Homo sapiens: one gene and its partner. The protein of the gene in region 1 purifies or fractionates together with the protein of each later gene. This does not show direct contact. Each region holds a gene or a part of one and is shown in the gene's direction. Other genes may lie near its edges.

What was found. Proteins that work in one complex are often made in the same cells at the same time.
Region 2: the proteins of SUCLG1 (region 1) and POGLUT3 fractionate together in Homo sapiens (co-fractionation; one large-scale study listed by BioGRID). This does not show direct contact.

Annotation. Positions count from the first base shown.
Region 1 is NC_000002.12:84,438,665-84,442,315, reverse strand, and holds part of SUCLG1 (succinate--CoA ligase [ADP/GDP-forming] subunit alpha, mitochondrial precursor), read left to right. Parts: intron 1-856; coding exon 857-1,069; intron 1,070-1,211; coding exon 1,212-1,269; intron 1,270-3,651. UniProt on the Homo sapiens protein: Succinyl-CoA synthetase functions in the citric acid cycle (TCA), coupling the hydrolysis of succinyl-CoA to the synthesis of either ATP or GTP and thus represents the only step of substrate-level phosphorylation in the TCA.
Region 2 is NC_000011.10:108,477,805-108,481,455, reverse strand, and holds part of POGLUT3 (protein O-glucosyltransferase 3 isoform 1 precursor), read left to right. Parts: intron 1-79; coding exon 80-276; exon of another isoform or gene 277-296; intron 297-1,126; exon of another isoform or gene 1,127-1,193; intron 1,194-1,960; coding exon 1,961-2,155; intron 2,156-2,796; exon of another isoform or gene 2,797-2,992; intron 2,993-3,651. UniProt on the Homo sapiens protein: Protein glucosyltransferase that catalyzes the transfer of glucose from UDP-glucose to a serine residue within the consensus sequence peptide C-X-N-T-X-G-S-F-X-C. Can also catalyze the transfer of xylose from UDP-xylose but less efficiently.

The DNA of each region.
Region 1 (3,651 bases):
TAAAGCACAAATTTAAAGTCCTTCCTGCCTTAAATTCTATTATGGCTGATTTTATAACCTCAAAATATAGAGAGGAGATGTTTTTTTACAATTCCTCTAGGTTGACTTTTCTTTTGTCATGAGCCTCTTTTTGCTTTTTTTTTTTTTTTAAAGAAAGTTCTTCTTGCTAAGCAATCCATTTATAATTTATAGTGACACAAATAGTTGTGACATTTGGAATATTCTATAAGTTTTTTGACAGATATTGTTTATTTTTCACCCGTTCTGCTCTTACAAAGGGCTTTTTGAATGAGTAGGGTTGGTACCTTTCATCCATATGACGTCCCAGCACAATATTTGCTGTTGTCACAGTATAGCTTCTGGCAGTATTTGTAGACTTTAGAGGTAGAAAACTATGTAATGTAGGTACTTTTCATTAAAGTACCTACATCCCCATGATGTGACTTTTTTTGATTCCATACTAGTTTTAATGTTTTTTGTGTCTCCCCCTCTGTTATCATCTTGAACAGAGTTTTAAAAAATTATTTTTAACCCCCGGCATCATTTGTGGATGATATGTTGGCATTCTTTGACTCTGTTCACTGTCAGGCTGCTTTCAGATTTACTGACATGCCATAGAGAGTGAGATGTCACAGAAGCTTTCAATTCACAGTGGCATTCAAATGGGCTGAGAAAGGGCTATGCTTGATTCTGTTCTACTCTGACAGTGTAGCAAATTTGAGAATGGGAAGAATGCTATGTCTCTGGGTAGTGTCCTTTTCTTACCCCAAGACATTATTAAAATGATGGTATTGAATTTATTTTACAATGTTTATGATTTAACAAATAATAAGGTGCTTCGTCGTTAATGTTTCAGGCCAAAGAACAGACAGGAGCAACGGCTTCTGTCATTTATGTTCCTCCGCCTTTTGCTGCTGCTGCCATTAATGAAGCTATTGAGGCAGAAATTCCCTTGGTTGTGTGTATCACTGAAGGAATTCCCCAGCAGGACATGGTACGAGTCAAGCACAAACTGCTGCGCCAGGAAAAGACAAGGCTAATTGGGCCCAACTGCCCTGGAGTCATCAATGTGAGTGCAAAAAAACAAAAAGAAACTCAGATTAAGCCTCTCACAAGGCTAAACAGCTTTGAGTGAATGCGAGTGTATTTGTGTGTATGACCTGTGAGTGACTTTTTTTTTTAACATTTCTGAAAACTATGATTACTTTCAGCCTGGAGAATGTAAAATTGGCATCATGCCTGGCCATATTCACAAAAAAGGAAGGATTGGTGAGTTTGTTTGTTACATTCTTATAGATTAAAACGTTATTTGCCTTAAACCCTCAAAACTCACAAAGAATTTTTGACTTTGCAAATCAAGTTTAATTAATTTGACTTGAGTAGAATTTACCAGGGAAGTTTTGTAGTCTATCAATTCTGTATCTTGAATATAATGAGTTTATTTGAGAAGCCGTTACAATTCTGCAGAATCAGTGAAGATTTTTTTGGTGGTGGGAGTTTAAAGATTTTTTTCTGCTCAGCACTCTGTGGATTACTCCATGTGTTTGCATATATCAGTAGTTAATTTCATTAACTGTTATAACTTAGTTATTGCTAAGGAGTATTCTGTTGTATAATTATACCACAGTTTGTTTATTCATTCTCCCATTAATGAACATTTGGGTTGTTTTCATGTTTGAGCCTTACAAACAAGGCTTAGGTCAACATTTGTGTACAGGTCTTTTTGTGGAAACATTTTCGTTTCTCTTGGGCAAAATGTGTAGGAATGGAATTGCTAAGTCATGTTCATATGAACATAAGTCAAGTATATTTAACTTTATAAGAAACTGCCAAATAGTTCTGCAAAGTGGCTATATCATTTTATATTTTCACCATTAATGTAGGAGAGTTCCACTTGCTCCATATCTTCACAAAGATTTGGTATTGTTAGTCTTCATTTTTTTGAGACAGAGTTTTGCTCTGTCGCCCAGGCTGGAGTGCAATGGCTCGATCTCGGCTTACCCCCACCTCCGCCTCCCAGGTTCAAGTGATTCTCCTGCCTTAGCCTCCCGAGTAGCTGGGATTACAGGCATGCGCCACCACGCCCAGCTAATTTTGTATTTTTAGTAGAGACGGGTTTCTCCATGTTGGTCAGGCTGGCCTCGAACTCCCGACCTCAGGTGATCTGCTGGCCTCGGCCTCTCAAAGTGCTGGGATTACAGGCGTGAGCTACCATGCCCGGCTATTAGCCTTTTTAAATGTAGCCATTCTACTGAGAGTAAAATGGTATCTCTTGTGGTTTTGAGTGTCCCTGATGACTAATAATGTAGAGCACCTTTTCATGTGCTTATAAGGCCATTCACATACCTGCTCAATAATTACCTTGTTCTTTTAGATATCACAAACTTTCTCAAAATGTTTTAGGTTTGTAGGCACCTTAGAAAGCAGGGCAGTGATCAGAAAGGGAACTCAGATGGCCTGTCAGGAAAATTGCCCTGCTACTTGGTTAGTTCCTTGAGGAAATAGCCAAAGTAACATTTCAAAGTTAGCCACATTAGGCTTGTGTTTAGGCTTTACACCAAAATTTCTCTAAACTATACTGTTTTTCAGTCATGAAAGATGATTGACCATATTTTTCTCTATCTATAAACCATGGCTACTAATAAGGGTAATTAATTGTCACAGTGGGTGTCGGCTGTGCAGTTTACAGAATTGGGTTAAAGATCATGATTTTTCTTTATTACCAATGTCTCTTGGAGCTGTCAGCCCTGCTGCCAGTGGCAGTACTTGATAATTTCATTTACAAGAGAGATTTCAGGGAGCTCCATAGGCCATCTGAGTTCCAGTGGGGCCAGATCCATGTATCACTGATGCTCTTGTACATATTTGAATATTTCTTATATTCTTGGGTCTGTTTTGAAGGCTGTGGTCTTAAGGTGAGCATGGAAGGAATGCTCTGTGCTGAGTTGCCTTTCTGATCACTGCTCTGCTTTCTAAGGTGAGCATAAACCTAAAAAATGAAAATCAAGAGAAGTTCAGGGAAGTCCTTTAGACCTTGCCTTTGTGAATGGTCATAACCCATTGATGAGACAGTCGTCTGGGAGACTGCTTTTAATTCCTTTGAAAAAGGACTTTTTTTTTTTTTTTAAAAAAAAGAAGAAAATATGTGACACTGTGTCCAGAGTTGGTTCCTTCCAGTGGGTTCTTGGTCTCGCTGACTTCAATGAAGCCGCGGACCTTCGCAGTGAGTGTTACAGCTCTTAAAGGTGGCATGGACCTGAAGAGTGAGCAGCAGCAAGATTTATTGTGAAGAGTGAAAGAGCAAACCTTCCATGGCATGGAACAGGACCTGAGTGGGTTGCAGCTGCTGACTGGAGTGGCCAGCTTTTATTCCCTTATTTGTCCCCTGCCCGTGTCCTGCTGATTGGTCCATTTTACAAACCTCTAGCTACAGAGCGCTGATTGGTGGGTTTTTATAGAGCACTGGTTAGTGCATTTTACAAACTTCTAGCTAGCTACAGAGCGCTGATTGGTGCGTTTTACAATCCTAGCTACAGAGTGCTGATTGGTGCATTTTATAATCCTCTTGTAAGACAGAAAATTTCTCCAAGTCCCCACTCAACCCAGGAAGTCCAGCTGGCTTCACTTTCAACACTACAAGATTTTTGAGGG
Region 2 (3,651 bases), on another chromosome or scaffold:
TAGATTAAAGAGGATTATGCTTGCCATATTAAAATGTCAAATTCATAATCCTAATTTTTTTATGGCTTCAAACTTGTAGGGCCTTCCTGGATCAATAAAACAGAGAGAGCTTTCTTCAGAGGTAGAGACAGCCGAGAGGAGAGGCTCCAGTTGGTACAGCTGTCCAAAGAAAATCCTCAGCTACTAGATGCAGGAATTACAGGATATTTCTTTTTCCAAGAGAAAGAAAAGGAGCTTGGAAAAGCCAAGTTGATGGGTTTCTTTGATTTCTTTAAGGTATGCATTTGAGTCTTCTTCTATGGATATGAAGCGATAAAATTGTATTAAAAGTCTACCAAAATAGGTGGGCTTCAGCAAATTTCACCTGGCTTGTGAACTGACACACATGTTCACACTTTCTTATTAGATATCAGGAATTACAAAACCCATTGTGGTTTCCTTCTTTCATTGTTAAGTTTACCAAATAGCTCAGAACTGTACTTAATTCTCAAAATATAGTACAAGGATTAACCTGGGATTTTGGTATATTTATGTCTCGTTTTTCTTTCTTTTTTTTTTTTGTATTTGCTTTCATAAACTGGGAATATAAATACCTTTTACATAAAGTGATCTCAAATGTCTTTTATAAATAGAAAAAGCATAAATTCCATATATGTAAAGTGGGAGTTGGGATTAGGGTTCAAGGCCTGCTTCTAATCCTGCCTCTGCCACCAACTATGGGACCTTCCTGTCTTGGTGCCTTGGTCTTTAAACCCGTGTGATGCCTGCCTACTCCTTCAGAGCATTATCACGAGGCCCAGAGGAGAGATGTGAACAATGTGACAAAACCTGATGGGCTCAAAAACTCCCTTGTACCAATTATTTAAGAAAAATTTATTTACCAAATCTGGGAGTGTGTCCTCTTCATCCCAGAGTGATACAATGAGTAGAACAGGGGATTTGGACTCAGAGAATGAGGTTTATACATTTCTCTGAATACCAGTTTTCTCATTTGTAAAAACAAAAAGAAGGGGTTAATAATACCTGCTTCAGATTATTCTAATTGAATGAGGTTTAATGCCTATGAAAACTACATTTGAAATGGAAAACAAAGTATATTAACCCAACAAATATGCAGACAGCTTACCTACTATGTTGCCAGCATTGCCCAAGTCCTTAAATGTCTCCAGGTTTCTATCTCCTCAGCTCTAAAACTGTAAAATAGAGACAATGCCTGCCTGTTTCATAGACTGCGTATAAGGAACAAATGAAATAATGAATAAATGAAAGTGTTCATTGTTATCAGTATTGAGCTTTAAGAATTTTGAAAATAGTTTTCCTGGCTGGGCGTAGTGGTTCACGCCTGTAATCCCAGCACTTTGGGAGGCTGAGGCGGGCGAATCACCTGAGGTCAGGAGTTTGAGGCCAGCCTGGCCAACATGGGGAAACCCTGTCTCTACTAAAAATAGGAAAAAGTTAGCTGGCTGCAGTGGTGGGTGCCTGTAATCCCAGCTACTCAGGAGGCTGAGGCACCAGAATTGTATGAACCCAGGAGGTGGAGGTTGCAGTGAGCCAAGATCACGCCGCTACACTCCAGCCTGGGTGACAGAGCAATACACTGTCTCAAAAAAATAATAATAATAATTAATTAAAACTTAAAAAGAAAATAGTTTTCCTACCTTGTTACAGAAATCTGGATTCCATTATTACAGAGACATGATTGAAATAGGTCTTCACTCCTATTTCCAAAAATTTAGCACCTTACCTTTAAACAATGTATTTCTTAAAATTAATCTGAGAAATGCTGCTTGTGATTTTTATACAAAGAGAAGATGTAAGTTATAAAATAAAACTTTTAAACACAAAAAAGTTGGAAAATGGAAAATAATTCCTCTGTAGTTGGTATTACAGTGTTGATGAGGAGCAGAAGTGAAGCAAATGACTACTGAAAGTTTGTTTATGTTTGTTTTTCATCTTCCAGTACAAGTATCAAGTAAATGTGGATGGGACCGTGGCTGCTTACAGATATCCATATCTCATGCTGGGCGACAGTCTGGTTTTAAAGCAGGACTCGCCATATTATGAACATTTCTACATGGCACTAGAACCTTGGAAGCATTATGTTCCAATTAAAAGAAATCTGAGTGATTTATTAGAGAAAGTTAAATGGGCTAAGGTATGCGTCCAGCAATTTTTATTTCTTTAAGCAATAACAAATTCATCAGTGTTAGATGAGTTCCATCACAATACAATTTGATTTGACATAATGGAATGAAAAGAAATATTATTTTCTGAAATTGCTGTTCCCTTGAAATATCTAAAGAATCAGCATCAGAATCATTTTGCATACCCTCTATCAACATTTTTGAAGATTTTCAGAAGATTTGAAGTCCAGCCTTATATAAAATACAGATTTTCTAAATGCTATGTTTACACATACAAACAAGAATATACAAAATGCAAATTACTGACTGAAAGACCAGAGTTAAGGTGCTTTATGAACAAGAAAATATTTCAGGCAATTACAGTACTCTTTTCTTATCCCCAGTTAGAAAAAAGGCACAAATTCTTAATGAATGCGTGTTATACAACGCAAGCATCACGTTTCCTATAAAATAGGAATTCCTTTTTTAAAAGGAAAAGTATTAAAAAGCTGTTGCGTTTTATTATAAAGCTATAAAAATGTACCCTTCCATTATGAGACTTTATACTAAGATTCTAAGAAACAATATATGGTTATAGAAATAATTGGGCGCCTGAGGCAGAATCACTTTTGTGACCCTTCATAAGAGCCTCAGTTGCTTGCAAATGGCTTACCTGCGGGCAGCATTGTAGAAGATTAACTGTTTTCCAAAAGTATAATTAGGAACGCTGACTATTTCTGGTACTGAATGAACAGCCTGTGGGTACTAATGACTGAATTTTTCGGTTACAAAAGCAATACAGTCTTTTATAGCTACCATTTTATAACACAACTTTTTGACGTTGACTGCGTATTTGCATGGAGCTTTTAAAAGATGTTGTAACGTGAAAACGGATTCATTCTCCTGTTATGCAGAGAGGAAATAGGCTGGTGGGACAGATGCGGAAGCTGAAGAGTACTTCCTGGGTGGCCAGGAAGGTACCAAGATGGTCACAATAGGGGCTGCATGTGGGTTGTTGCACTGTGGGGAGAAGGAGTGGCTTCCTAGTACTGTGGAAGAGGGGCCAAACATGTGATCGTTTCTCTTTAACGGAGATGTCTAGGAAAATACTCTGTCTCTTCCTGTAGCCTCATTCTTTCATTTATTTATTTATTAGTTTATTTATTTATTTATTTATTTATTTTTGAGACAGAGTTTCACTCTGTCGCCCAGGCTGGAATGCAGTGGCACGATCTCCACTCACTGCAACCTCTGCCTCCCGGGTTCAAGGAATTTCGTGCCTCAGCCTCCTGAGTAGCTGGGATTACAGGTACCCGCCACCACACCCAGCTAATTTTTGTATTTTTAGTAGAGATGGGGTTTCACCATGTTGGCCAGACTGATCTCGAACTCTTGACCTTAAGTGATCTTCTAGCTTTGGGCCCCCAAAGTACTGGGATTACAGGTGTGAGCCACCATGTCCGGCCCCTGTAGCCTCATTCTTAAGTTATAATTCCATTATGTTCTGGCTTTCCCATGCTGTTCACTT